Regions from separate parts of the Homo sapiens genome. Here all the other regions are linked to region 2. Evidence: fine-mapped expression QTL. A gene starts in region 2. Each other region holds a variant in brackets. All regions are shown on one strand. Distances are between the middles of the regions.

Region 1 (10,694 bases), 190 kb after region 2:
AACAATTTAACAGGAAAAAAAAAAAACAGATCAAAGTGTTCATAAGAGGCCACTTTGTCTGTCTCTCTGGAATTCTGTGCTTTCTTACATTGATGTTCAGGTACTTTGGACAAAACAAACTGATGTGAAGACAAATAACTTCTTATGGTCAAATAAGTATTCCAATATATGGGCAGGAAAAAGCTCTAAAATGAGGAACTGTCTTCACCTGTACTTTGATTGCTACTTTTGTTTTTCTCTCTCTCTACACACTGGTCCTTTGCTCCCAGGGCATCTGTCTTGTCAGTGTAATTTAATGCATATCAGTCTAGTGATAGAGAAAGCGATGCTGTGTCACCATCCCTTCTGTCTTAGCTATACTTTTGCCAAAGTGGAAGTACAGCTCTAGAATCATTTATAGGTCTGTAAATGAAGAAGTAGGAAAAAATGGGTCTTGATGGTGTGGCTGCTGCTGGTCTTCTGGGCAAAAACAGCTTTAAGCAAAACGAAGGTAGCTTTGAACAAAGTGTCAGTAAAGGTTGAATTGTGTCCCCCACACAGATATGTTGAAGTTGTTGGAGCTCAGAACAAGAAGACCCGAAGTATAGCACTTCAGCATGCTGAGTACTTCAAACTTTAGGACACTGGAAGGGCCTCAGAAGCAAGGTCTCTCTGACCTTCTCCTGCCCTCCTGTTTACAGCCTCTCTTTCACCTCTGAAGCAAGTCATAGAAACTAGAATTTCTCTTCTCCAAGGTGGGTCATAAAAACTGGAACCCTTTTCTCCTAAAGCAAGCCATAAAACCTAAAAAGGTCTCTCTCTTCTCCTTTCTTCCTTGAAGACTTTCATTCTAGAGGGGTTCTGCCCCATACCTGGGTAGAAAGAGAATGCTATTCAGAGAGGCTGAGAAGAATCTGGACGGGCCTTGCTAGGTTCTCCACCTCAGTTTATTACCATTAGATCATACCCTTTTGCCCAATCACATTTCTACATGGCTGTCCATTCTTCATCAAAACTAAGCATAAAAACAGTTTTCCCTGGGTCTTTTGGTCATAATTTCAGAAGTCTCTTTTGTTGTGTAAAACTTTGATTAAATGAATTTGTTATGCATTTTTTTTGTTGTTAATCTGCCTTTTGTTAAAGGAATGTCAGCTATGACCCTTATAATGGGTGAGGAAAGTTATCACATTTTCCTGCCCCTACAAAATCTTAAGTTTGGTACCTGTGAATTCAACCTTTGGAAATAGGATCTTTGAAAATTTCATGAAATTAGGATGAAATCATACCAGATTATGGTGGACTCTAAATCCAATGATTGGTGTCACTGATAAATTTCATTCTAAATGCCCAACTCAGGTACATTTGCCATTGAAAAGTGGATGCAGTTAGGTTTTGATTTTCACATAAAGCCCCCAATTTCATAGGTTGTTTGTGCAAAATCCAAGCAGCCTATTCTTCTGCATAGTCTGAATCTCCTTGACAATGATCCCTCTGTCCCATCACCCTTCACCAGTTGGCACCAATCCCTTTTTTTCTGTCATTAATTGTATTGTTAATGTATCTCCCAATAGATCAGAACTTTCCAACTTCAAGTGTGCATAAAACTCAGCTGAGAAGTGTGTAAACTGCAAACTTTTAGATCCTATGCTCAAAGATTCTGGAGTGAGTTTGAAGTGAAGAATTCAGCATTTCCCTTTCAATTTATCTCCCCATTTATTTTTCATTCTGTTTCAGACTTTTCCTCCAATGATTCTCTCTCCCTCTCTTTGCCTCTTTCTCCATCTTAAGCCTTGTGAGAGACCGAAATGAGCTTGAGGAATAGCAGAACTAAAACTCACAAACACCAAACATTTCTACTCACAAACATTATTGAGTATTAAAAACAAGTAAATAAAAAGATATCAGAAGAGCACAGTCCCATGCTTCTCAGACCTGGCTGCACAGTAGAATCACTTGGGGAAACATTTAACAAACATCGATGCCTGGTCCCACCCTCGACCATTTAGATTAGAACCACTTGGTGGAGGAGGCTAAACACTGGCAAATCTTATCACTAACCCAAGTGATTCCCCATGGGCAGACAGGGTTGAGAATCCTTAGTGTAGTCAACAGATATAGCTGCACAAATATGGATCCACAGTGTCCCCTCTCTGTTCCTCACAGGGATGCTTCCAGGGTGGTGACAGTAGTGAGGGGTGAGGAATCGGCCAAAGCTAAGAAGCTCCTGAAAAGAGCTCCCAGACTTTTACTTCTGCCCCTCCTCCCACTCTTATCAGCACCCAGAAGTATCTTAGGCCAGCAGGTGAGGCAAGTGTTACTCAGTAAGCCATGGCCCCTAGACCTACTTCCTGGGGTCCTGGATCTGATGTTTTGCTACAGCATACCAAGGCAGTCCCTCTCATTCTACATCTGGGTCACAGTCACGTAGCATCTTGCACAAATTGAATCTAGGGACTTTCCATTTGTGTCCCCTTAGAGATTTTCCAGAAACATGCCTATCCGTAACATACTTTTCTGAAAAACTATCTTTTATGTCCTCCCTTTTTCACTTTCAGTGATGTACATTAAAGGGCAGCCACAATCTATTCACTCTGCCTGTCTAAAATTTAGTGAATTATCCTTCTATTGAATTATTCTTTATTATAATGAATTTAACTGGAGAGAGAAGTCACCACTCATAGTCCCTTCCATCCTCCTGACAACTTTTTGAGATTTTGCCTAGAAGAAAGGAGACCTTGCTTTCAAAACAAAGCTAATGTTTAAAACTCATTACATTTAAATTTTAATAGCTACACAGTATTTTATTATATGCACATACCAAGTTTAATTAACCAGTACTATACTGATGAACATTTAGGTTGCTTAAATATTTTACTACTATAAACAATCATGAAATGAATGTTTCTACATATTTTGTATCCATATGCACTAGTATATGTGTAGGACAAACTCTTAGAAGTAGAATCTTTGAGATAAAGGGAATATGCATTTATAATTTTGAAAAATATTGCAAATTATCTTCCAAAGAATTTTATTGTTCACTATCTCATCCCTGATGTCTAAAATGGACTACTCCTCATATCCTCACTAATGCAATGCAATATGAAACTATTTTATCTTGTCATTCTGATATGTGGATATGAACTATCACTAGAGTTTTAATTTCCATTTCTATTGTAATGAGACTGGACTTTTTCATATGTTTAAAAATTCTGTATCTTCCTATGAATTATTTCTTCATTATTTTCCAATTTTTCTACTGAACTTTTAGTTTTTCTTATATTTTCTTATATCTAATAAATTAGGAAAATGAGTCTGTTCTCTTTTATATATAATGTGAATACTTTTCCTTAGATGCCCATTTTAACATTATTTGTTATTTTTTTCCTGAAGATTAAAACATTATTTAAATAAATGTATTGATAGCTTTTATAATCACTGGATTTTATGTCATAGTTAGCAAGGCTTTCCACTCTCTACAGTGTATATAAGCTGGGCACAGTGGCTTGTGCCTATAGTCCCAGCTACATGGGAGGACTGCTTGAAGCCAGCAGTTCAAGACCAGCCCGGGAAACATAGCAAAATCCCATCTGTAAAAAAAAAAAAAAAAATTAGCCAGACATGGTGGTATGGTGCCTGCAGTTCCAGATACTCAGGAGGCTGAGGCGGGAGGATGGCTTGAGCCCAAGTGTTTGAGACCAGCCTGGGCGTTACAGGAAAACTCTCTCTCTCTCTCTCTCTCCATAAACACACACACACACACACACACACCACACCACACACACACACACACACGTTTTCTTCTAGCACTTCTCTGATTTCTTTCCTTTTCTTTCTCTACTTTTTAAAAAATGTTTACTGAACAATCCATTTTATGCCACTGATCAGCAATGCCACTTTTATTGTAGACTAAATATGTATATATTTGGATGTATTTCTGGACTGAATTGTAGCCCATTAATTTGTCTGTCTATTGATATGCCAGTACCACACTATTTTAACTTCTATCTTTTCATAGTTTATTATCCAATACAATTATATCTCATTCAATACTTTTCTATTTCACAGTTTTCCCTGGCCATTATTTCTTCCTAGTTCTTACATATGAGCTTTCTATCAGTTTATCTAGCTCTAATAAAAAATTCTTGAGGCATTGTGGCTCATGCCTGTAATCCCAGCACTTTGGGAGGCTGAGGTGGATGGACCATCCTGAGGTCAGAAGTTCAAGACTAGCCTGGCCAACATGGTGAAACTCCATCTCTACTAATAAATACAAAGACTAGCCAGGTGTGGTGGTGCATGCCTGTAGTCTCAGCCACTCAGGAGGCTGAGGCAGGAGAATCACTTGAACCTAAGAGGCAGAGGTTGCAGTGAGCTAAGAGAGTGCCACAGCACTCCAGCCTGAGCCACATAGCAAGACTCTGTCTCAAAAAAATAAAAAAAAAAATCCTGGTACTCTTTTAATTATAATTATATTAACTGCCTACATTAAATGAAGGAAAACTGATATATTTATGAGTCTTTCTAAAAATAAAGTATGTTTTCATTTGGTCAATTCATATTTTGAATCTCTCATTAACATTTAAAAACGTTCTTTACACAAATCTTGCACATTTGTTGTTTAAGCCTAGTTTTTAGTTATTTCATGTTTTTTCTTTGATGGTTGCAAAAATATGTTTTCTTCCATTATAAAATTTAACTTGCTGAGATTCATATGTATGAGCCTTATTGATTTTTGTGTGTTAAATATGTATTCAGTATTCTCTTTTCTAGGAAAGATCAATGGATGGCCCCAAGATAAAGCAGTATAGAAAGTCACAAGGGGAGTAGGAGGAAAGGATACAGACATATTTGCCAATTTAAGAATATCAGGTTTCTCTTTCAGACCCTGAATCTTAAAAGGTATTTTTTTAGGACTAAGGCAAAAAAAATTTAGACAGTAACCTTATTTGACAAACTAAATTGTTGGAGCTCAGAACAAGAAGGGTTTAGACAAAGGGTTTAGACAAAATCACAGATTATAGCTCAATAAAGAAAAAAGTGATGTAATGTGTTTTGCCTGGCATTTGAAGTGTTCCCTTGGAGGGCCCAGCTTCCTGGCCTGCTCATTTCCTAATACACTCCAGCTTCCCTGCATCACCTCCCATGCCAGTCATAGTGGTCTCTTTCCTATGCCTGATTCCTGCTACCACTGTTTGGTGTGCCCTCAAAGCTGCACTTGTGTACAATTGCTGGTAGTATCTCGCCTAGGACAGGGTCCTGCTAAGTCTCCTCTATGATGCATTTGTGTACGCTCACTATTCATAGTCTTCTCCCTGAGACTACTCAGTAATTGTAGCAAATTACTGAGTAATCCAAATAATTACCAGATTTTGGAGATGAACATTCCAATCTTCAAGTTCCATCTATGCAAATTACAGGATAAGTTCAGCTTAGATTAAGTTCTTTAGCTCCTCAGAGCTTTGGTTTTTCTCCTATGTAGAGTGAGGGTAATATGTGACCTACCTCTCACCCATGGTCATTGTCAGGATTAAGTATTCCTTAAAATATATCTAAACTATAAAGTGGTATCCAAATATCAAGTGTAAGGAATAACCCACAGACTGAAAATCACTCTACAAAGAGAAAGGAACAGAGCTCTTTTCTCTCTTACTCTAGGATGGATTCAGAAAGGTGACAGACGAGGGAGTAATTGTTCTCCTTTTGTTATTCAACTGATAGGGTCAGGCAGGCCATGGGCTGCATTCTTCTGTCAAGAATAGTAAATAGGCATTGTCACGAGTGCCAATGCTAAACCGATTATGAATGCCTGCCTGAACGCTGTGTTAGGGGTCTGAGGACCCATCTGAGTAGAGAGGGCAGACGTCTGTGATCAGTTAGTAATGGTGCATGAGCATGACAAGGAGAGATGGCAGAACTAATGCCACATGTCTGTTTTTCTGTCCTCTGTTTTGGGTTCGCTTCATGGGAAAGCAGTAGTTGAGCTGCTACTGCTATTGACCTTGTGATGTTTTTCCAGTTTTCTCCATTGCCATAGCCTGACTGTGTCTTAATACAGATTTCAGTTTCATTTGTTCCTTCAGTCTTTGACTAGAAATATAGGCCACCCCTTTGGGGAATTCATCTCAATGGGCACATTTCAGTCACATCAGCAATGATCTATTGTTCTTACAATGTTCAGGA[T/C]ACTCTGTGCTGGGGGCATGGGAAAACCAATGGCATTTGATACCTCCTATGTGCCAGGCACTGTGTCAGATACTCCATGAGTTGTTCCCCCCCGCCACCCCCGACCATCCTCAAAAACTTCTACAAAGCAAGTCTTATTTTGGCCATTTTACAAATAAGGAAACTAAAATTATTGAGGTCAAATATGTTATACTTCAAATGCAGAACTCTTTTCACTACAGTGAAAAGTGAAATGTCTCAACCTCAAGGGGCCTCTGACTGTGCTATACCCATTCCTCCACTGCAAACCTAGAGGAGCTTATTGAGTACTGAGTCAGCTGACATACAAGTCCTCTCCCTGCAAATACTGGAGTAATCGCAAAACCTGCACCAGGCCTTCCAGTTAGGAGACTCAGTAATCTTTCTGTTGTCTTCACATAGCAGAGAGAGGCCGCTAACCCACAACAAGCCTTGGGGCCTTTGCAAGATTTCCTGATGATCTAAATTTACACTGCAGGAGCCCCAAGCAGCTTTTTTATTTACAGCACTCTGGATCTCAATCTCTTAGTTACGTTACTCCCAATTAAGCTGATGTATGCTCACAAAGCGTCATTATGTGATTTAATCACAGAGCATTTTGAATTAATTATACACGGGCATTTTATAACATTCTAGGTGCCTCATTAAAATTGGTGCTGCTTTTAATAGATACATAAATGAGTGTGGCTGTGGTATTGAAGTTCCAATCCTGAGAAATATCCCCTACTGAAGGTAAGATATGCATGTTTCCACATGTATGTTTTTAAAATTCCGTGATTTAACACTTACTTACTTGCTCTCAGTAAACATTTAACTGAACAGATAAGCTCTCATGTCTCTATCTCATGAAGCTGAGTAGCCTGAATAAATTAAAGCATATTCATACATTTATTAATTACTTTGCCTTTGCTGGTAATTGGTGATGGATAGGGTTAAAGGTAGGTCATCATTTCACAATAGCCACAACTCCATTTGAATAAGGGAGGTGATTAAAGTTTTCAAAAAAAACCAGAGGGGTTTATATTTTAGCTGGAGTTAATTCCATGGTGAATCGAGTGAGAAAAATATTCAGCTCTCCCTGAGGCAAACGAGGTTACTATGACCTCTTCCAAGTCACTAAGTGGTTCCTGGAAGTATAATTTTATGTAACATTTTATTATATTTTACTCCCAGAGTGCTTGTCTTTCCTAAGACTATTAAGCAGGCTTCCTATGCCTATTCTCTCCCCTTCTGCACCATTTCAGAGTCTAATCCTGTATCTCAGGTTTCTATTGCTGCCACACTGCCCACTTCCACTCCCCAATCTTCTCAACCTCTGCCCCACCCCCAGCCTCTCTATTCTTCACCCTCACACCCCAGCCCCCAGGACCCCCATTCTCCCTCCCACAAGTAGTCCCTTAAATCTTGACCTTCCTGCATCCTAACCCCACCAACAAAACTCATCTGTCCTGTATCCTATTCTTTCCAGATTCTCCTCACTAACAGAAAAATCTGCCCAATAAGTTAATGCTAGTATAGGTCATTGGTGATAGATCACTGTGTTACATTTCAACAAATAATTTTACATTAAAAACAACCCCACTGATTGACTGTGTAAAACAAAATATTTGTGGCTACAGGAAAGCAGGATGAATGAGAGGTCGTTCTGACTTTCTCTCTCATTTTTTTTTCTAGTCAAAGTAACAAAATGACATCATGCAATGTGATCATCCACTCGGTCTTGACTTCAAATGAACTTGACTCTCCAATATTAAATCTACCTTGGATGATCAGCTGCTACCAGTGGAGTTACTTGAATGAACATGCTGCCAATTCTGAAAGTAAATTCTAACGGAGATAATCACTTTAGTTGAAATAACACAGGCTTTGGCACATCTGGACAGATGGGCTGAAATCTAAGTTTGCTAGATGGCTAATGTTAAGTGACTTAAAATACTTCTAAGTCTCGGATTTCTCATCTGTGTACAGGGAATAAAATTACCCACCTCATAGATTAAATATAAAAGGTTTAACAGCACATAGAAGTGTCTCAAGTAATGCCCTTTCTTAACAAAATATTTCAGCATCTTAAATAAGTATAGTTTCCTTAGTTGACCCTCCCTCTTTTTTACAATTATGTCCTTGTAAGTTTGTTTAAACAATAATTTTTCTATATTGCCCAGGCTGAGCTCAAACTCTTGGAATCAAGGAATCCTCCCACCTTGGCCTCCTGAGCAGCCAGGACTGCAAGCACATGCCACTGCACCTGGATTAAGAACAGCTTTTAAAAGGTGATATTTCTTTGTAGTTATGCCTCCTACAAGTGGCCAAAAACCCATATGTTGTCAATCTGCCATTAAACTACACATTCAAAAAATCACTAACTGATCTGAAAGCTCCCCACAAAGCAGAAGAGCTGAAATTCTTTGAGCCCCTGAATACTGGAACTGAAATGTTGGTAAAATATCAAGCCTGCATCCCAGATCTCCCCTGGGTGAATCTAGGTATGGGCAGTTCTCTGCTTATAAGTTAAGGTCAAGTTCAGGTTGGTGAAATCCACGCTTGTTGTAGGTGAAGAATTTAGGTTTCGAGCTTTTGGATACATCCTCAGTGACCACACGAGGGCTAATACCTTTTAAAGATTTAATGAAGGGCAAGGGAACTGCTTTTTCAGGACATAGTCCTGTTGTGTTTTGGCACTATCTGGAGAGCTTACCAGAGATAGGTGGAAAATTTCATTTCAGCCTCTAACTATCTTGGGGTAAGTTGCTGAAAATTCTCAAGGCTCAGTTTTCCCATTGGGAGAGTAATAACTTCATTGGGCTGTTATGAGAAATGACAGCGTGATTGGTTGGTTCATCAAAGCAGGGGTCCCCAAATCCCGGGCCATGAACTGGTACCTGTCCGTGGCCCATTAGGATCCAGGTCGCACAGCAGGAAGTGAGCGGCAGGCCTGCGGAATTACCGCCTGAGCTCCACCTCCCGTCAGATCAGTGGCAGCATTGGATTCTCACAGGAGTGCGTCCCCCCCCCCACCCCCCCACCCCCCCGCATTGTGAACTGCGCATGCGAGGGATCGAGGTTGCCCGCTCCTTATGCGACTCTAACTAATAATGCCTGATCATCTGAGATGAAACAGTTTCATCCTGAAACCATCCCCGCCTCCCAGTCTGTGGAAAAATCGTCTTCCACAAAACCAGTCTCTGGTGCCAGAAAGGTTGGGGACTGCTGCATTAGAGGACATAACAAACCTGTTTAAAGCAGGGAGTATAGCCCCGGCACATAGTAAGTGCTCAGCAAACCCTGGTTTCCTTTTTCCTCTAGCCCTAATCTCACATTCAAGATCAACTTTACTTCTAGCCAAATAAATTTGCATCCACTGATATAATTTTATAGGTAATGGAAAATTCCCAGAAAAACAAAACAATCTACCAAATCATGGCTGATTTGCTAATTCTTTCCATCGGTCACTCACCTGACTCACTCCTTTATTTCATTTAAAATTCTGTGATTATGGCCTCCTCCTCAGAGACATCTTCCCTGCTCACCCTGTGTAAGATAATTCCACTCCATATCACTCTTTATCTCCTTAACCTGCTTATTTTGTTCACAGCATTTATTGCTACCTGAAATTAATATACATGTATTTGTTTATTTCCTACCTTCCTCCACTAATATGTAGGCTCAGCAATGGCAAAAATTTTGTCCGTCTTGTTCATGGCTGTTCTCCTAGCACAATATTCAAAACAGTCTAGAGGCCAGGCATGGTGGCTTATACCTATAATCCTAACCCTTTGGGAGGCCAAGGTGGGAGGATCACTTGAGCCCAGGAGCTTGAGACCAGCCCCAGCAACATGACAACAGCTATCTCTACCAAAAAAAAAAAAAAAAAAAAAAAAAAAAAAAAAAAAAAGCTATGCACATGATACATGCCTTTAGTCCCAGCTACTCAGGAAGAGGATTGCTTGAGCCCAGGAAGTCAAGGCTGCAGTGAGCAGCGAGTGCACCATTACACTCCATCCTTGGCAACAGAGCGAGACCCTCCCTCAAAAAAATTAATAAATAATAAAATAAAGCAGCGCCTGAACACATATGATAGGTGCTTAATAAGTATTTGTTGAATAAACAAGTTATTTTTTTAAAAAATTTTTATTAAAATTGTATTTTTAAGGTGTAAATTGTGATGTTTTGATATATTAATACATATACATAGGAAATTACTGCAGTCAAGCTAATTAACATTTTATGTGTGTAGTAAGAACACTTAAAATCTACTTTCTTTGCAAATTTCTAGAATACAATACTAACTATACTCCCTATGCAATACATTAGCTCTCTAGAACTTATGCATCCTACATACTAACTTTGTACTTTTTGACTAATATCTTCCCATTTCCCCTCATCTTTCACCTCTGGTAAGCACCATTCTACTCTTTGCTTCTATGAAATTGAATTTTTTAGATTTCACCTATAAGTGAAAGCATGCACTATTTTTCTTTCTGGGTAGGGCTTATTTCACTTAGCATAATGTCCCC
Region 2 (10,382 bases):
TATTTTTAGAAACTATGAAAAAAATTGAATTATTGTTTATAATGTAATCATCAATTCATAGGAAAATAGGCAAGTGACAGACAAAAACAAAAACAAAAAAATCCAATGAAACATAAGAGAGATATACAGTTATGTTCACCAGCAGGCATAACTCTTGGTTGATACAGTATGAAAACATTATAAAATTAAAAATATCTCTGATTGGAGAACATAACTATACTTTCCCCTATTCTATTTTATTCCACTTCCAGGGAATTAATGTTTCTCTCATTTTTTTTCATCACCAAATTAACAGTAGATTAAAAGAAAGTGAGAAAAGAGCAAACAAAATAAATGTATTCTATCATAAATTATGAAATATAGCTCTTATTAGGTACTTAAACACAAAATAGATCTTCTGTCCCATATTCTGCCACATCCTTTTCTATGTTACATAGTTACAGAAGTAAAATAACGAGACTTGAGTGGAAAGAAAGTGAAAGGAGGGAAGCAAAGGGAGTAAAAAGCAACTAGCTGAAAATCTCTCAATACAAAATGATGCTAAGTAAGGTCTGTTTGACAAATTTAATGCAACATTTCATATGCTGTTCTATTAAAAACAAACGACATTATTCCCCCTAAATTATCCCTTTGAAGCCAACCAAGTTAATATTTTTGGAATTGACATGTAAGATAGGATAACAAAATAAGTTAAGCATTTAACAACATCTCTAAACAAAGTATTTCCAAATTTTATACATCTTCTAGTAGAAGAGTTAGCTCTTTGTATTTGTTGGTGTATACTATTTTATAAAATAAAACCCTATTTAATTAGTCTATGTAAATTACTTGGAAGTCTGCAAATAGTAATTTTCATAGATGTTACTTAGTGCCAGCACCCTCCCCAAAATTAAATGTTACATAATTTGTTCATTTTGTGGGATTCCTAATTTGAAAAGAAACAACTAAAAAATAATACCAGAATAAAATAGCTACTCCTCTAGGGGATCACAGTAAATACAGCATTATTTTTTGCACTCTCTTAACTCTGTGAACTTCATTAAAAAGTTTAAATTTTCCCTAATATCTTTGAAACACGTGGTAAATGCGGTTTTAAGTATTGAGATTACTGGGTTCTGAAGAGCAACAATGAATGCCTAATTCCATTGAGTACAAGAATGAGCTTTTGCTTTATCATTGCAATAAATAAAAATGAAGTCTACTTTTATTAGTCTTGTGTTTCTCTCAACCCTAAGAAAATAAAAATATTTACAACTTGCAATGGTTACATTACAAAAAGTCATTTCATAAAAGTCTAAACTAAAATCCAAATGACTTCCTATGCGTTATTAAAAATAATCTTTACAGTCTATAATCATGCAAGCTTACATATGGAATACCAAAATGATAAATGTTTTTAGATACCATAAATATGTGCACTTACTACCATGGTGACTAAAACAGTCTAAGAATAAAGGAAATACAAGCTGTCTTTGCAAACGTATTTATTTATTCATATACTACACCTGTATCAGAAATTAAAGTGGTTTTGGTTTCAAAAAGTTTGAATTCTGGTTTCAAAATTATTAAATATAAATTTATATTAATAAATATAAAATTTAGTAATAAACAAATTCGGTGCTTGCTTGATATAAACGTGCTGAATAGCAATGCGTAACCAAGTGATTACCATTTAAATGACTTTGGAAACAAGACCTCTGCTCCCTATTTGGATTAGGCTGATAAATTTTATGACCTTACTGTGAGCGTATTAGTATCTGTACATAACTTTGGTTAAAGACATGTTTTACAATCATTACCTCTATATACAGTTAAACATTAATTTCATTTACAGTCAAAAGTATTTGGGGCCCTCTTAACAACATGTGAACTGTGTTTCCTTTGTCAGATGTAGAATTTTACAATTATTCGGCCAACCAATTACTAATCAAATGATTTCTTTACAAATGAAGTTTTGTACCACATTACTAAAGTAGCAGACTCTAACTAGTCCAGCTAACCCAGAAGCACTGTAACTAACCACACCGCACACAGCACTAGCTTATGTCTTCAACGCTCAGACCTGTATTCAATCAATTTCCTTCCACAGGAGCCTGCCAACTTCAACAACAGAATAAACGATATAATATCAACACGCAATGGTACGTACTCGCCACAAAGTCTGAATCACAGCACATATATTAGGCCAATATTTTCGACAGTCTGACTCAGAGCCCAGGAACCATGAAGATTGTGTCTGTCCTTGGTGCTGAAATGCACTGTTTTTCTGCGCCCTCACTGAAAAACTGTCATCCTAATCCCAATCCAAGAGGCTAAAAAGACTTGTTAATTTGGGGAGTCTGAGGATGGGAGGTTTAAAAAAGAAAATGATAAGTTTCTGGAAGAGAATGCCAACTAGTGTGTGTGTGTTGGGGGAAGGGGGTTGCTAGAAACATCCCGAGGGCATTTCCCCTTCAGTGCCCAGAGACCCAGGAAATCCGGACTGCGGCAAAGATCGGAAACGCCTCGTCGGGGCAGGAGCCGCGAGCGGGAACGTCGCCCTCGTCCGGGCCAGGCGGGCGAAGGCGGCGAAGGGCGCCACGGTTGTGGACGGCTACTTTCCGCGCCAAGGCGCGAGCCCCGGGGTCCTTTTGTTTCTGGGGTGAGGGGAGGGCGGTGGGCGGAGGGTAACCCACATCTGCATTTATTTGCACAGAGGGGACAACAAAAGACCCTGCCGCCCTGGCGAGCGGCGTCGGCGGAGCCAGAGTGGCCCCGGCGCCTCGGCGCGAACTCTGTCCCTTTCCTCGCGGTCCCGGCCGCTCTTACCGTCCCGGTCGCACAGCTGAATGGCCTCCAGGCTGAGGTTTTTGATCACCTCCTCACAGGGGCTGGTGGGGCTGTTGAGGGCATGATCCAGGCGCGGCACCTCCATTTTTCCAACCCACTCTGAAGCCCGCCTGCTTCGTATCCAGGCTCTCTCTGCCGGCCGGGTGGGCAAGAAGAGCGGGAAAGGGAGGGGGAGTGGCAGAGGGAGGGAAGGAGGCCTGGGACGCGGTGATGCGGCGCCGAGGCTGAGGCGCGGGGCTGGAGAGCCGCCGCGAAGGCGACGGCTGTGGCAGGAGCTCCGCGGAGTGTGCGGCTCTGAGAGACCGAGCAGGACCCGGCGCGAGGATGGGAGGCGCGCGCTCCCGGCGGGGAGGGGACGCTGCTCTCGGGGAACGTGATGTATAGGGCTTCGACGCGCGCACGCGCGCGGGAGAACGCGCCCACCTGCTGGCGCGCGGTGGTCCCTCCCCCGCCCTTCTGCGCGCACGCGCCCCCACCTGCCCTCCAGCCACTGCCAAGGCAACCTCGCGCGTGAGGCGTCGGGCGACCGAGCGCGCGGGAAGGGCGAGCGCTATACGCCGCGCGGCTGCCTCGCCCTCTCTCCTGGTGATAGCCATTTGGCGTCTTCTGTCTGCTCTCGGTGCCTGGCGAAGCCCGAGTTGGCCCTGAGGCGTCTGCACGGGGAGGCGAGGGCGAGCATGTTTGTTGTTTACCAAGAATTGGAAAAATAAGGGCCCGGACTCTTCGGACTCTCTGTACGGTATTGGGGTGTGGGAGCCACCTCCTCCCCTGAAGGTCCCAGGATACTCGCTGCCCGCACCCTGCGGGCTCGGCCGGACATTCCTCGGAAACAGCTGCGTCTGTGTGAGAAATGAGCGGATTACCTGAGGCGTGGAGGGGTTTAGAGACAGCATTTTGCCAGTCCACGACACTGAAGCGGGGCAAACGTGGGAACTCCTTACTGCCAGAAAGGTGAGGGAATGAGGAGATGCAGCAAGCCTGCTGAAAAGGCGGCAGACATGCTGCGGGGCCAGCAGCCACGGGACCAGCAGCCACGCAGTCTGCCTTCGCAGCGTAGCTTCATTCATTCATGCGCGTAGCAAATAAGTATTCAATGCTCACCCTATGCCATTGTTCTGGGCGTCAATGAAGGGAGTATAAACAGCACCTGCTCCCATGGATTTGGAAGGAATCTTTGCTACAATAGCTAATGAAGATTGACTTGTGCTTCCTCAAGCTACTCTATAACTTGTATGCCCATTGATTTTAATTGCATTTAAGATTCTGCAGTGCACTTAGTGGATGTGCAAACGTTTTAAACATAAAATAGAGGTCACAGCCTATTGACCTCTGTTCCCGTTTGCTTCTTTGGAAAAGTTTTTAGTTTTGTTGCTATCTTGGGATCAAAAATAGTGTCCCCTCTTTTCTTAATGTGCTTATAAATTAATATAAGTTCCCTTTTATTGATTTTCCATTTCAAACATAAATGTTAACCAACAAGTAACAGTTTACACATAGATGTCTGTATGCTGCTCTTTCTAGTCACATCCATTTAGCTATAACATGATGAAGTCTAATTAATTGAAGCTTCAATAAATGGAAGGACCAGCTTAAAGTAAAATAAGCCTGTGAAAAATCTTGGCACAATTGAAATTTCATAAATATCTGTGAAAGATAATTAGGCATCTTAAAGTGAAAAGTCTTCATTATGAACTTATTAATGAAGATGGATGTTTTTGAAGTTTGAAAGAATTCTTGTCTTAAGGTAGGGGTGTCCCCAAGGAGAGGGTAAATTATTACCTGTCAAAGGATATGACAAGAAAGTACTTACTGGTGAATTTTCTGTGTTCGAAAGCCTGGCTCTGTAGAACTAGAAATTGGTATTGTAAGCCCAACAGTGGGTTCATTTTTTAGAGTAGTCTCAAATTTATAAATCTCAAAAAAAAGGAACTGTGTAAACTAGAATAACAATTTACTGATTTTCAAGTAAGAAATACGACATGCATTTAATTCAAACTCATGCAAATATTTATGAAGCACCTATGTCCAGGACACTGTGCTATGTGTTGAAAATTTGGAGTTCAAATTTATCAAGAAAGATATATATTGAAAAAGTAAAAGTAGGATGGGTGTTAAGAAAGAGGAAGTATGGGAGCTTGTAGAAGCACGCACGAGGTTTATAACCTAGGTTAGATGGTCAGGAAGATCTCCAAAATGATTTTATCTTAAGGGAATGAGAAATTATTAAAAAGGCTTTAAATAGGAAATTAGCATGATCAGATTTGTCGGCTAGAATATTTGTGTAATCGGAAAGGGTAATGTTTCAAGAAGTGTATTAATGTCACTTTCTGGGTATACAACTTAATCAATCCAAGGCACCTTTCTGCTGAGGATTTGGATTCTTGTATAAAAAATACAAAAGAAATATTTACTTTTTAACTTTCGATATTAAATATAGGATTTTTTAAATCGAGTTTTTAGGCTTCAAATCGAGGCATTGTCAAGACATAAAATGTAAATTTGTTTATGGTTCAACATATCAAGGCTAGGCCTGGTGGACCAAATGATAGGGTTTCTCCCATAGTAAAGACAAGGTATCTTAGTCCAGTATGAAGGATTTAGTCAGAGATTGATATAAGGAAGGTGGTGGCTATGAAGTAGGTAAAGTAGAAGAAAATCCTATTCTCTTTGGCTTGGAGAATTACGGGAAAGGGGTAGAAGAGCTCAAGAAAGACACCAGAAACATTTTTACTGTTCCCACCCTGAAGATGTAGGGTGAGGGGTTGTGGCTTTAGAAATATCCAGATTGGTGTGGGAAAACTCAAGGACAGAGAAATTACTTTCCCAATTCTCAGATATCTGGGAAGATATCAGGCTGAGCAGGAACCACATTCCAGTAACCTTGAACAGGGCGGAGACAGGGTAGGCATTGACTTTCCAGAGTGCTGTAAGTTTCTATGTACTGTTGAGACTCAGAAAACAATACTCCCCTCCTCCCCAAAAAAAAAAAAAAAAAAAAAAAAAAAAAAAAAAAAAAACCTCAGAAGTAAAAGTTTTTCCTCTCATCTTCTGACCTTCAGCCTCTCAGTCTCATTTTCCCCTGAGGCTAGCTATAAGAAACTAGAATCCCTGTTCCCCAACGTGGGTTATAGAAACCACAATTCCTTTTCCCCAAAGCCAGCCATAAAATCTGAAAATATTACTCTAATTTTTCTTCTGCTTTTCTGTGTAAAAACTGGCCATAAAGAAATTATCTTACCTACCTTGTTTAACTGAAGGTCATAAGATCCTCATTCCAGAGAGGGCCCTGCCACATAGCCAAAAGGAAGAAGTGCATGCTCAGACAGGTCAAGAAGAATCTAGACAGACAGGCCTTTCTGGGTTTCCCTACTCAATCTATTAGTATTAGGTCATATCCCTTTTGTCCAGTCATATTTCTTCATGACTGTTCATACCTTGTTGAACCTAAGGATTAAAATGGTCAATTTTCCCTGTGTCTTTGGTCTTCATTCTGAAGGCTTATGTTGGAAATGTGGTGTTCAAATTTCATGTAAAGCTATGATCAAATAAATTTGTATGCCTTTTCTCCTCTTCATCTGCCTCTTGTCAGTAATTTTCACCTAACCTTCAGAGGGCTAAGCGGAAGTGTTCTCTTGGCTCCAACAGTACTCAGAACGTGGTTGAGTTGAGAGCTATCCAATCTTCCCTGAAGTTTTTTGTTAAAAGAGCAAGGTGACACTTTAGCAAAGGCTATGGAGTGGACCTTCTAGACCAGGGATGTCTAAAGTACCAAAGAGTTGAGACCCGTCCGTCAGAGATGGCCGCAAGGCCCTGAAGCACAGACCATGAGTTTCTCTAGCTACCAACTTCAAGTGAAAGACCAGAAGCAACTAGACATATGAGGAATGTCACCTCAGAGACCAGAGGAGGCAGAAGAACCTGTTCAAACCAAATGACCCTTTGTCCCAATGCCTCAGGTAATGGTATCTAGGGATATCTGATATTTCCAGATACTATCTAAAATAGGATGTAGGGGAAAGGTGGAAATCTTAGAGACTGAGGGTCTTAACGTAATAAACTTGAACTTTAAGGAACTGCTTAAAATACTGAATGAACCCAGGTTTCTGGGTTAGAATAAAAACACATTATTTCCCCTCCCGTTTGTCAGTGACTGAGATTTCATGAAGATGATCGAATCAGTTTAGACAAAATGAAAATTCTACCTTTTTGTACCTAAATTGCAGTGTAGTTGCAATCCCCATACACTCAACATCACTTAATCATTAGCTTGAGATGTCTGCTATTACAATCAAAATCCTACCAATCATCCGAGCCCCAACTCGTATGCTACATTCTTTTGAAATGATTCCCTCTGTCAAAAACCTTTATGTTGTATTTCTGTGGGGCTTTATAGTTCTGTTACAGACATCATGTTATGATTTATAAGTTATTAATGTACATGAAGAATCAGAATCAAATTTTAGGGACTTAAATATATCTAATTCAATACCTTATCCAATGTCAAAGCCCTTGACAAGAAGTTATTTATCTCCTAATAAATATTAAATTAAAATCCTCATGAAGTTATCCAAAGTCTTTCGCATTCTGAGCCCAAACATATCTCCTATAAGAGCACTACAAAGGCCTTAATTTTCCGATTTGTTCGTGATACAGAATAATAATCCTTCCTATTATACATATATATTCAAATATCTGCCTAAATACTCACGGTTTTTGCAAATGTTTGTGATATCCCATTGTTTTGAGTCCCTCTGTCACTCTACACACTCTCTTCTAGATAACTCCAATTTTTCTGAGTCCATAGGTAAACACACCAGGTGTGGAAATATAATAAGAATATAAAAGAAAGCACAGTAGAGTAACACCATCTTTGTTGTGTGTGCCAGACATCTTGTAATGCAGCCCAGGAGCCCATTAGTTTTTTTGACAATAATATCGCTCTGCTCACATATTCTGAGCTTGCAAAGACATAAAAATCCTGTATCACTTCTGTGAACATTTCTTATTTCTCCTGTGATACTGTAGATTTTAAGCACATATTATAGTATTTGCAAAGAGAAGATACTTAGGACAATTTGCTGAATTATTTTAGTGAACTCCGATACTTCGAATGTATTTAGTTATATTGCTCCAGCTAGCCTAGGATTTTATCAAAGTAGGCTACACAGTCCTTTTGGTAGGCTAGTCCATAGGTCTATCTTATTCATAATAAAATGACCCACAACCCCTGGCACAACTAAGGATTTTATGACTCGCAGAGGGTGCCAAGAACCAAAACCAAACAGAAACAAACTCCACAAAATGCATAATAAATGAGTGCATCTTATTTCCTCTCATAACACTATGGAAACTTTTCCTAAGCCCTATTGTAAATGGAAGGGCAAAGGAAAACTCATAATCAATAGAAACACAGTTGAAAGCAATCCAAATATTCTAAATTGTTTGTCCTGACTCAAGAAGTATTGGGACTTGTGAAGATCAAGTAACATAATGCATATAAAAGTATTATTACGAACTATAAAGCACCCCCAAAAGTTAGGATATTATTACTGTAGGACACCAAAACGACATTAAGAAAGCATATTTGGTTAATTTTACAGTACAAATTTATGGAAATAGTTTCATAACTTCTTAAAAACTGAGAACTTTCATATTTAGACTATCTTTATGGTTTAATGTATTGAGGATTTTAAAACACAAGGATGATTTAACATACAAATAAATAAATATGATATACCATATTAACAGACTATAGGACAAAAACCATATGATCATATCAGTAAATGCAGAAAAGGAAGTCAACAATGTTTAACATCTTTTCAAGATAAAAACCGTTAACAAATTAGGCATTGAAGGAATGCATCTCAACACAGTAAAGACTATGTATGGCAAGCCCATAGCTAATATCATGCTTAATCGTGAAAAATTGAAAGCTTTTGGTGGTTCATGCCTGTAATCCCAGCACTTTGGGAGGCTGAGGTGGGTGGATCACAAGGCCAGGAGATCGAGACCATCCTGGCTAACACGGTGAAACCCCGTCTCTACTAAAAATACAAAAAATTAGCTGGACGTGGTGGTGGACGCCTGTAGTCCCAGCTACTCAGGAGGCTGAGGCAGGAGAATGGCTCCTGAACCCAGAAGGCGAAGCTTGCAGTGAGCTGAGATCACGCCACTGCACTCTAGCCTGGGCAACAGAACGAGACTCCGTCGCAAAAAAAAAAAAAAATATTGAAAGCTTTTCTTCTAAGATCAAGAATAAAATAAGAATGCCCATTCCCACCACTTCTATTCAACATATTACTGGAAATCCTAGCCAGAACAATTAGGCAAGAAAATGAAAAAAGGCATGCAAATAGGAAAGGAAGAAAAATTATCTCTGTTTGCAGATGACATGATCTTATATATGGAAAATCATAAAGACTCCACCAAAAAACTCTTAGAACTTAAAAATTCAGTAAAGGTGCAGGATACAAAGTTGGCATACAAAAATCAGTGGTGTTTTTATACAACAGCAACAAAACAGCAAACTTTTTGAAAATCAAGAAAACAATTCCATTTACAATAGCATCAAAAAGAATAAAATACCTAAAGTAAGTTAAACCGATGATATGAAAGATCTGTACAATGAAAACTGTAAAATATTGATGAAACAAATTGTAAAATACACAAGTAAATGGAAAGATATCCCACCTTGATAGATTGGAAAGATTAATAGTGTTAAAATATCCACACTGTCCAAAGCAACCTACAGACTCAATGCAATCTCTATCAAAATTCCAAAGGCGTTTCACAGAAATAGAAAAAACAATCCTAAAATGTACATGAAACCACACACACACACACACACAAACTGAAGAGCTAAAGTAGTCTTGAGCAACAGCGAAGCCAGAGGCATCACAGTTCCTGATTTCAAACTATATTACAAAGTTAGAGTAATTAAAGCAGCATGTTACTGGCATTAAATGGACACATAGACCAGTGGAACAGAATAGAGACCCAAAATAAATCCATGTATTTAGTCAACTGATTTTTGACAAAGGTGCCAAGAACACACAATAAGGAAAGGACAGTCTCCTCAATAAATGGTTTTGGGGTAACTGGATATCCACATGTGGAAAAATGAAATTAGACCTTTATTTCACACCATAGAAAAATCAACTAAAAATGAGTTAAATACTTAAATACCTGAAACTATAAAACTAATAGGAGGAAACGGGAAAAGCTTCATGACATTGGTAATTGCGGGGGGGGGTGGGGCATAAACCCAAAGACACAAACAGCAAAAGCAAAAATAGACAAATGAAATTACATTAAACTAAAAGGCTTCTGCAGAGCCAAGAAAACAATAAACAGAATGAAGAGACAACCTATGGAATGGGGAAAAATTGTTTGCAGACCATACGTCCTAAAAGGGGCTACTAACCAAAATATATAACAAACGCAAACAACTCAATTGGAAACAGTCCCGATTTATGAAAACAGCCCGATTTAAATAGACATTTGTCAAAAGAAGACGTACCAATGTTCAACAGGTATATGAAAAATGCTCAAAA
Region 3 (10,387 bases), 170 kb after region 2:
TACTTACATGTGAAAAATGAATAGTATATGTATGTATAAGATGTATTATTGTTTTCCATCTATGTAGGGATATGTAGATGTCTTGCAATAATTACATAAACCTTTTCTGTAACAAGGTCAAGGAATTGGGGTCAGGTGACAGAATGATTCTTTTGTAGCTCCAGTGTTTGTTTTAACCCAGAAGGCCAAGGTCTCCAGATGTTAGGTCACAGCCCTGCATTCTGCCTCTTTTTTTTGCTCTGTTTCCATGTCCTTCAAATAACTAACTCAAGCTCAAATTTTAACAGAAATTGAACTGACCAGCAGCCAAGGGAGTTGACACGTGATTTATGAGTCAGGAGACTTGAAGATGGTGACTTAACACAGCTTCCAGATGCTGAAAACGAAAGTGACTCAAGACATACACTCCAGGTTGAAGGCATATGCCAAAAAGAGAAAAGTGGGAAGTGTGATTTAGGGCCTATCTTCCAAAGGGTAATGATGAATCTCCTCAGAGGCATAGCATTTCACTTTCAATCAGGATACAAAGATAGCAGGAAACATTTATACCAAAAGGGAAATTTGTTCAAAAAGTAGAAATTTATGCAAAGATAATTTTTTGAGGTGATATTTTTGACAGTAGAGCTGGCAACTGTGTTTAGAGGTCATTCCCACACTCTGGGTACCACTCATGACTGTCATGCTCTGACGAGCTCCTAATCTCTCTCCTAAATCCTTCCTCCCTCCAGCTTCACAGATGAGACAGAGTGGAGATGAAGAAACAGTCTCAAAATTATAACTGTGAACCATAGAATTTCCTCTGATCTTTTGTGTGCAAAACAGTAAATAATAAAAAAAAAAGAGAGAGAAATTTAAAAATTGAATTTCCCCTCCAAATCACAAGCATTTATAGTTGGAAAATTTCAGTACTAATTTGTAGACAAGTGTCTAACATTTGGTAATCCGTATGTCATTACAGATATGGGTCAAAAATGGTACATTTAGCTGAAAAATTATGTAAAAAGAAAGTATTATGAAAGGATAGAGACAATTATATTTCTTATATCTGAACAGTATTAGTGTGTTTCAATGATCACTTTATTCTCAGTGTAACCTCAGCCACTGGAGAATGCTGATACCTAAAAGTTATGATGATTAAGAATGTGGTCTTTGAGGTCGGGCACAGTGGCTCACACCTGTAATCCCAGCACTTCGGGAGGTGGGGGCGGGAGGATTGCTTGAGGCCAGGAGTTTGAGACCAGCCTGGCCAACATGCTGAAGCCCCGTCTCTACTAAAAATACAAAAATTAACCAGGTGTGGTGGTGCAAACCTGTAATCCCAGCTACTCAGGTGGCTGAGGCAGGAGAATTTCTTAAACCAGGGGGGCAGAGGTTGCAGTAAGCCAAGATCGTGCCATTGCACTCCAGCCTGGGTGACAGAGGAAGACTGTCTCAAAAAAAATAAAATAAAATAAAATAAAAGTGGGCTTTGGAAGGAGACTGAGGCTGGGAAGTCCTACTTCTGCCATTATCCAGCCCTGTAACCTTGGGCAAATCACTCAACTTCTGTAAACTACACTTTCCTTATTCATATGGTGATATTACAAATTTGCGAGATAAAATTAGTTATGACATAATTTATGTAAAAACACTTAGAAAAATGAATGCAACATATTAACTACTAATAAATGTTGACTTTTACTATTAATTGTGACAGTATTAAGGGACAAAACATCTTAACATGGCAGTAATTTGAGACTCCTGACCCAACTCCCCCTAATAAGAGGACTTTGTCTTTATCTACTCAGATTCTTCATTTGTCCCTGCCTTGCCCTCTAAGAGAATTTTGCCAAACTAATTCCTAAGCTTTTTGTAAGAATAGGCAGACCACGTTAAAGAAAACAAACAAAAGGACAGAAAAAACAAAGCAAAACCAAACAAAAACAGCCAGGTAGAGTAGACCTGCAAACTGAAGAAGTTGGGTGAAGAACAAAAGCCCACATGGGCCACATGTTCTGTGAGAAAGTGTTTTAGGATTTGGCATGTGAGAGTCTCTGGAGCAGCTTTGGAGTCTGAGAAACAAGAAAGGAAGCAAAGGCAGTTTGGGAGCCAGGGCATGGTGGCACATGCCTGTAATCTCAGCACTTTCAGAGGCTGAGGTGGGAGGATTGCTTGAAGCCAAGAGTTTGCAGTTGCAGTGAGCTATGATCATGCCACTGCACTCCAGCCTGGGCAACAGAGTGAGACCCTGTCTCTAAAAAAAAAAAAAAAAAAGTTTTGAAAGGTGTTTTACCATGGATTATAAATGGATCTACTATCACAATCTTTAAGAGATCAAAGTAAAGAGCAGGTTTCAGTTGTAATGACTGGTTTCTTGACTGTGCTTTTTCATGGAGCATTATGTAGAGGCTAGGTCATGTGGGGCCTCGGTTTATACATAGTTTATGCAACCACAGTTCCTGACTTACCAAGTGGCACTTCTCTAACAGTGCTGTGTCAGATTTGCCTGCTATGATCACTCCTTTTTCTGGCTTCTGTATTTATTGGGTGAAGTACACTTTAAACTTAAAGAAGTGAGTCTTTATTTTTCTACCTTCATCACCAGGCTCTTCTCCACTAGCAACTCTTTAGAAAATAGCAGTGGCCTCAGCAAAGGAACATATAGTAATCAGTAGTGCAGTTGCAGACACTTAATCTTTATTGCCACCACCCCAGACCCTAAGTCAATCCTTAGCCAGGTTGGGGGAAGCAAACAGAGAAGGCAGATTATTACAACTGTTCCTCAGACATCAGATTTCTTCTATGACAATGAAGTGTTCGAGTAATTCCTGGCACCATTGTTTTAGGGTTCACTTTCCAAAAAATACAGTCAGGATTTCTCTTTGGAAACATGCATTACAACTCTTCTTTATGGATCTGTTCCAGGTAATTACACTGTTTTACTCAGGACAAAGCCTCACCCGTTAAAGAGCTTTGGTACTATTGAACACCTTAAATTTATGTTGTGACCAACAACAGCATCAGGGATTACAGGGGGAACAGATCCCTTTCACATATTCTAAATACACAACTGAACAATCAACACAATTCAAATGTTGCAAACATTTAATTTATTCCTGCCCTGACCCGTCTTTCAAATAGCAGACTCAAAACAGGTGGTTATTACATCAGCCTCTAAATCACTTTTGTATAATCAATTAACCTCATTACGTTGAGGTATTCAAACAGTTTCCACCAACGGACAATTTTATTATGACCAACACAATTTGTTTTCTCTTACCAGCCTCACAAATGGCCTCCTGAAACTAATGCTTAGAGAAGTATTGGAAAATTTCCTGTGCTGTCTCAGGGCTGTATACATTTGCCACACAGCAGCACAATGAGTCCATGTTATTACATATGAAGGCTTGGGATTATGCCTTTCCATATGAAATGCATAAGCAAAACAACCCAAACCACCCCAGCCTACACAGAGAAATTCAAGTACCTAAGTACCCACCCTATTTTCCAAACAAGTAATATCTATACAGGCTCCTAATACCAAGGACTTCATTGGGTTTGTTGTAAATAAGTCAGTGGATGATCATAAAACACTTCTTGGCAGTAACTAAATCAAGAAGATCAGCGATGGTTGGCCTAAGTCAGCTATAAATTTTATGGCAATTTTTTAATGAGGCAAAGGAAGGGAGCTTATCAGCATTTTGGCTTTCAGGGTCAAATGAAAGAAAGCAGGAGAGAGCAAGAGAAAGGAATCTGGGGTACCTGGTGCCAAGAGAAGGAAATGGAAAAAGAGTGAATAAAAAAGGAAGAGAAAAATCCCCAGCTGAACAGAAGGCAAGAAGCTAGAGGCTTATACAGCCTTTAGCTTAAGGGCAGAAAGTTGTAGTTTGGTGTTTTCCTCAAGGGATGCCTGCAGAAAGATTTCTGTGCCAATGTGACCTTGGAAACTAAAAATGGATCACAGCTTTGGTGTTTGGGCTGAAATATACAAGAGAAACGCGGGAAACAGATATGAAATAGATTGGGTAGAAACACCAAGTAGCAAAAGACAAACCATACCCAAAAGATAAAAACCAGGACAGGACGTCATGATTATTATGACCCATGTTTATTTGACCAGTCCTGACCAATACAGGACCTTCTCTGGAAACAGGGGTTTTTTTTGGGGGGGTGGGGTGGGGTGGTGGTTTGAGACAGAGTCTCGTTCTGTCGCCAGGCTGGAGTGCAGTGCTGTAATCTTGGCTAACTGCAACCTCTGCCTCCCTGGTTCAAGCGATTCTCCTGCCTCGGCCTCCCTAGTAGCTGGGATTACAGGCACGTGCCACCATGCCTAGCTAATTTTTTGTATTTTTAGTAGAGATGGGGTTTCACCGTGTTGGCCAGGATGGTCTTGATATCCTGACCTTGTGATCTGCCCGCCTTGGCCTTCCAAAGTGCTGGGATTACAGGCGTGAGCCACCATGCCTGGCCGGAAACAGGTTTTAATACTTCTTTGGAAATGGAAATGTTTTGCCAACTTAATGGAGAAGGCTGGCATTTCCATGGGGACTATGAAAATTTATTCTGATTTAATAAAAACCTGAACAAGCCAAAGTGAAACAGAAGCTCAATGTTCCAAACTAAATTAGACATTTTATTAATCCAGTTAGAGGTCATTGGCCAACTGTAAATTCAGAATAGTGATTTTTAAAAGAGAAGAAGTGGGGATGGGTAAAATACCCTGAGAATCTGGCCTTCACCTGCAGCTGGGCCAGGTAGGTGGGAACCTTGACAAAGGAATGATGCAGGTAGCTGGGCTGGGTGTGTTTGGTGAGTTAA[C/T]AAGTAATCTTCAAAGCAAGAATCCGTGTCCATTCAGAAAGCAACCAGACTCTACACAGCAAGACTCTGGCTGCCATCAAGCCTTGGTGTTCAGTTGGCCTGAACTTTGATGCAAAACTGAGCTCTGTTCCTCGAGATATCCCCACTAGCTTTTACGTGTGTTCTCACAGATGTTTCACATCTTTGACTTTTGCCTTTACTGATGGCTTTAACTTTATTATTTAAGATCTTGTCTTGTCACTTTCATTGTCTCACAAAAAGGAGGTCACAGAAACCTTGTCTTTTCTAAAGGAATTTTTTTTTAAATCTACAAACTTGTCTCTGTTACCTGAGAGGCCCTTTTTGAATTTTCCATTATAAGCCAGTGGGAAAAACCTTAGAAAACCTGAAGGAAGCCCAGAGTTTAATTTTTTAAATTAATCATCCATAAAATAAAGTAGACTGGTTTACTATAGAAACAAGGATTCCAATCATATTTAACTGCAGTGTCGGGTGAGAGAAGAGTATTCAAAGTAGTGACGAAGGTGGTTAGGGATGGGGTAATGTGCATATTGAGCTGTCATTTTTCAAGCATTCTACAGAAAAGAAATCAGAGATTTTAGAAAATTATTAATGTCATAAACAAGACAAAACTTAGGAGAAACAAAGCAAAAAATTACACCCTGTTATTTAGTCTGAAAATTTTTTACTTACAAAAAAAAATATCGCAAAGACAAGAAAAGAAATAGCTAAATGAATAGACAGACAATTCAAGCAATTTATTGTAAGGAAGAACAATCAACTTCCACAAAGAAAATATCATGGAGATATAACTGGACATTGCAAACACTTTATGTATGGATTCTGATTTAGAATTTACTTGCTTGAACCCAAATTCTCATGCTTCTATGTGACCTGTGAAGAATTATAAGTTCTTCCCTCTGTGAGTCAGATCCCAATTCTGCCATACTGTTTCTGGTTCAGATTTTCTTCCTATAGGTCTGTCAAAAACAAAAAAAAAGAAGAATCACTGGAGTGGGAACTAGAGGCCTTAGGTTCCTGCCCTGCTTCTTGAACTAGCAGTTAACAAATATACCAAGTTACATTTTTGGGTAAAGAATAGCCTGATGGATGAATCTTCCGAAGTGATGTCCTTGGACAAATTGCCTAAATCTGGGTCAGCTTCATGGGCATAAGATCTGTGCGGTCTCACAGAGTCCCATACTTAAAAGGGCTTTGTGCTTAGTTTAAGGCCCTGCTGTCACCATCTTAGTAATTTTTTAACAAGGGACTCCACAGTTTTGTTTTGTGTTGGGCCCATTAACTTAAGCAGCTAGTCTTGCCTTAACACTGCGCAGCCTCTGCTTCCTTTTCTATAAAATCAGAATTGGAAGAGCCCTAGGATCATTTCTAATTTAGGAAGTGATGATACAAACCCTTCAGGATTGTCTGGCATTTAGACAGCACAATGCCACAATCACAGTGAGGAGATTTTTCTGGGATCTGTTTCCAGGACAGTTTCTTTCTTAAATTGGCCACCATACTCCATGATGGAAACTGCAAGACCTACCATGCCAGGGATTATCCTGCTCCCTCTTTCTCCTCTCAGTGACCAACCTCTCATTATAGCACCACTGACTAGCCAAGTGTTGCCACAAGAATGTTGCAAACAACCACCTCCAAAACTTAAGAGGCTTAAAACAGCAGCCATTCTTACTGTTCTCACATTCACAGTTAGCTGGTGGGTTCTGTTGATCTTGGTCAGGCCTGGCTGAGCATTTCTTTGACCATAGCCATCTCTCTCTCCCATGTTTCAGATGGCCTCAGCTGGCACACCTCAGCTCTGTGCCTGTGGTCTCTGTCCCTTCAGCAGGCTAGTCAGGGCTAATAGAGGCAAAGGTCAAGAGAAGGAGCAGAAGCAAGCACAGCTTTTGAGGCGTAGGCCTGGGACTGCATAGCATCACATCTGCTGCATTCTACTAACCAAAGCAAGTCTCAAAGCCAACCCAGGTTTGGAGGTACAGGAAGTAGACCTCAATGAGACCTCTTGAGTAGACTTCTTGATGGGAGGAGCTACAAAGTTACATCCCATGGTGCTTGGATAGAGAGAAGAAAAGAATTGGAGCCCCTGTTGCAATAAATCTGCCGCACTCACATTAATCAAAAGTTCTACTAGCTGTATATATTCATCACAACAAGGTATCACCGTGTGACCCTAAGAAAATCACCTGGGGTCTCCTTCCATTGCCACATCTATATAAATGAGGGTATCCAGATTCACTCTAAAGCCCTTTCTGCTCTGACATTCTCATAGTCCACAGGCTCAGTTCTTACTCCAACCAGTTTCCAATCTTCCCTTCCTCTTCTGAACCAGACACCTGTCTCTACATCCTATATAGGGCATTTAATCATAGACTGGTCAAAGTAGTCAATTTAACTTACTTTAATCTTCATAGCTTTGTCAGGTCCTGTAATTCCTGTAATTCTCAGAGGAAGTTTAAGTTTTGCTTAGCCATGCAAGAAACCTCCTTGCTAAAACTGAACGAGTAGCAAAAGGTGTATTTCCCAGATCCATGTCTATGTCTCTGTGTTTCCTTTGTCTCTACAGAGCAGAATCCTTTCTGATTTCAATGTTCTCTGCGCCACCCCCATCCTCCTATCAGACTGCATCAAGCACTCACAGTCCAGCCAAACCACATTGGCATGGCTCACTGCAGGCCTTTGAGCAGGGGCAGCATTCTTTTAAATAAATGAGAGGGACAGTGTGTTCTTGCTGAAGCCTGCAAGGTCCTGTCAGCTTTACGCTTGCTGATTTACATGGCTTTTAAAAGACATAACCATAAAATTTCACTCCAAAATTCACTCTGGCCAGTCAGATCTTTGCCTAGGCCTGGCAATTTTAATTTACCAAAGTAACGAGATAATAGTTTAATTTTTCCCCTTGTTGGATGCCCCTTTAATCTTCATAATTCACGATACAGCTCTTTCTCCCAGTAAGCTCTCTGATGGGAGTCTATGATCTAGATCTTGTTTTATTTTTTCTTAAGAAATCATTAAAGCGCAGAAGCTATTCCTACAAGGATCTGTAATCCTAACGTGTAGAACCAGTAAAGCACCACAGAGCTGGATAGTGGGATAAACATGCTGCATGTGGCTTCCTGGGCACGTGCACTAGCTGCTTTTGCCACTGGTTCAGGGAACAGGAGCTAAATTTGGTCTGTATTATTGTGTTTTAAGCTGAAAACTGATTCTTGGCTGGCAGATATGCTTTTTTCTTTTCTTTTTTTTTTTTTTTTTTTTTTTTTTTTTTTTTTTTTGAGACGGAGTCTCGTTCTGTCGCCAGGCTGGAGTACAGTGGTGCAATCTCGGCTCATTGCATGCAACCTCCGCCTCCCGGGTTCAAGTGATTCTCCTGCCTCAGCCTCATGAGTAGCTGGGACTACAGGCATGCGCCACCACGCCCAGCTAATTTTTGTATTTTTAGTAAAGATGGGGTTTCACCATGTTGGCCAGGATGGTCTTGATCTCTTGAGCTCATAATCCGCCCACCTCAGCCTCCCAAAGTGCTGGAATTATAGGCGTGAGCCACCGTGCCTAGCCAGATATGCCTTTTCTTTGCACATTCATTTGTGTTTCATTGTCTCAAAAATAAACTTGTCTTTTCAAATCAGGAAATCTTCCACTAAGCCAACAAAAAAAAGAGGGGTGATAATAGAGGACTCGCCAGTCTGTCTCTTACTTGCTGACATGCCTGTTTCCTCTGCGGTGGTTTTTGTCATTCTGCTGCATGTGTCCATGTTGGCATCAGGTTGGAGCAACACAGCGGGTTCTTTGGCTCTCAAGGTGGTCTTTAAAAGTCACTGATATTTGGTACTTGGTCACCTTGCCTACCCTTCAATTGCTTTTCTCTATGAAATCTAGTGCTCTGTGCATTGTAGTGCTTTCTCCAATAATTAGAAAAGAAAAACAGAATCTCCAAAATTCCTAGATCAGGGACTGTTAGGTAGGTAGGGAGGGAGAAAAGGGGCAGAGACGGTTACAGCCAGCCTCACATTTACAAAAGTCTTCACCTTTTCACTTTTCTTGCTTTCAAATTAGGTTATATATATAAAACCACGAAGATACAGAATTAAAAGCAGGCATTAATCTTATGCCCCATTCTGGTTCTAATGTACTTTAATGTTTATAAAATGATAATTATCTTTAAAATAACACTCTCTTGCAACATACTTACTGTGACAAAAGTTTTCATTTATTTAATGAAAATATTTAAAATATTCTGTAAATGTCATCACTTTATTCTGGCCTGTTTTATTTTTTAAATAAACCAGGAGACTCGAATACTCAAGGTTGCTGGAACTTCTCTTAACTTCTGAAGGGCTCTGCTTTGGACAAATTAGTTTTGTTTCATTGTGCATTACTAACCTCTTCTAAAGAAAACCATAGAGTAGAAGAAATGTGGCTCACATGTTTGGGGTAGAAGAAAGAGGTGGACACTCAATCAGGTAAAACATTGTCAAGAGCTTAGGTCCTAGACAGGAGCTGGTATAGTCACTTATAGAAAGATCAAGGCTGAGAACACACCATCTTGAGATGGGACCCTCTGAGCTCCCTCTGGATTTCCTTGCACAGGTCACTTTAGCTTTCAGAATGTTGTGTCAACACCTTGGCTTGGCACACAAGAATCTTTACAACTTGGCCGCTGACCACTGTCCAGCTCTTTCTCTCTCTCCACTCTTCTTCCCAGACCCTTTGCTTTGGTCCTATCACGACAATCTTAAAAATGCTATTGAACACTCCCATCCTATTGAAGGGCATGCTATTGAACTGCCCTTAAACTCCTATCCAGTCGTCATGAAGCATTCAATCTGTATCTCATGCCTCTGGGCTCCGATAGAACCCTGGGAATATTTCTACCACTTACCATTCTGTATTTTAATCTTTACTTTACCTGTCTGTTATCTTTTTTGAAAGAAAGGCTATATTTTCATCATTGTTTTATTCCTCCTTTATAGTAAAATACATGGCACATGACAGAGTCAATAGTGAATTCATAAATGCATGAATAAACAAAGTAGACCAGAAACCTATTAGAAATACAGAATCTCGGGCCCCACCCCCAGATCTACGAAATCAGAATCTGCATTCTAACAAGCTCCCCAGGGAATTTGATTGCACTTTCAAGTTTGAAAAGCACTGATCCAGCTTACTCTGCTCTCTCACTTCTGTAAACATCTGGAGTACTGATTGTCTAAGGTTCTGGGTTTAGTAATTGTTAATGTACCTGTCTTGCACTCTGCTTAATTGATTTGTGTGAGTGTGTGATTGTGTGTGTATGTTACTGTATGCTCACACACTTCCTTTCTTGTCTCCTCACCCAGAAGCCTACATGGGGGCACTCTTGACATTCCGTCACTACTCCTCTCAGCACCCAGAACTAGGTACTACCCAGAGTATTTTTAATCTTCCTGGAAAAATATCCCATAAGAAGATAAAATCTGCTACCTAAGCAATGGGCAAAGTGTTGGGGAAGAGTGATAGGGAAAAGAGCACTAGCTTTTATTGAGATTCTACTAGTAGGAAGTACTGTTGACACTGTATGTACTACATC

Direction of the effects. Positions count from the first base shown, and alleles are read on the strand shown. Sizes are in standard deviations (SD) of each study's normalised expression. Not every link is listed here.
As copies of C replace T in region 1, the expression in gastroesophageal junction of the gene that starts at base 3,125 in region 2 goes up (large effect, 0.83 SD a copy in GTEx).

What was found.
Region 1: its variant is fine-mapped to the expression of PHYHIPL in gastroesophageal junction (GTEx, PIP above 0.99).
Region 3: its variant is fine-mapped to the expression of PHYHIPL in pancreas (GTEx, PIP 0.97).

What each region holds. Positions count from the first base shown.
Region 1 is chr10:58,977,096-58,987,789 of GRCh38, reverse strand. No RefSeq gene overlaps it. Among named protein-coding and RNA genes, the nearest start is that of LINC00844, 17 kb to the left of the region's middle. The variant T/C (reference allele first, on the strand shown) is at 6,163.
Region 2 is chr10:59,169,386-59,179,767 of GRCh38, reverse strand. It overlaps PHYHIPL (phytanoyl-CoA 2-hydroxylase interacting protein like), which reads right to left and starts at 3,125. Exons shown (of 5, transcript NM_032439.4): 1 at 2,809-3,125. The coding sequence starts at 2,914. It overlaps CCEPR (cervical carcinoma expressed PCNA regulatory lncRNA), which reads left to right and starts at 3,304. Exons shown (of 1, transcript NR_131782.1): 1 at 3,304-5,805.
Region 3 is chr10:58,996,619-59,007,005 of GRCh38, reverse strand. It overlaps LINC00844 (long intergenic non-protein coding RNA 844), which reads right to left and starts at 7,488. Exons shown (of 2, transcript NR_108046.1): 1 at 7,219-7,488; 2 at 5,389-5,777. The variant C/T (reference allele first, on the strand shown) is at 4,798.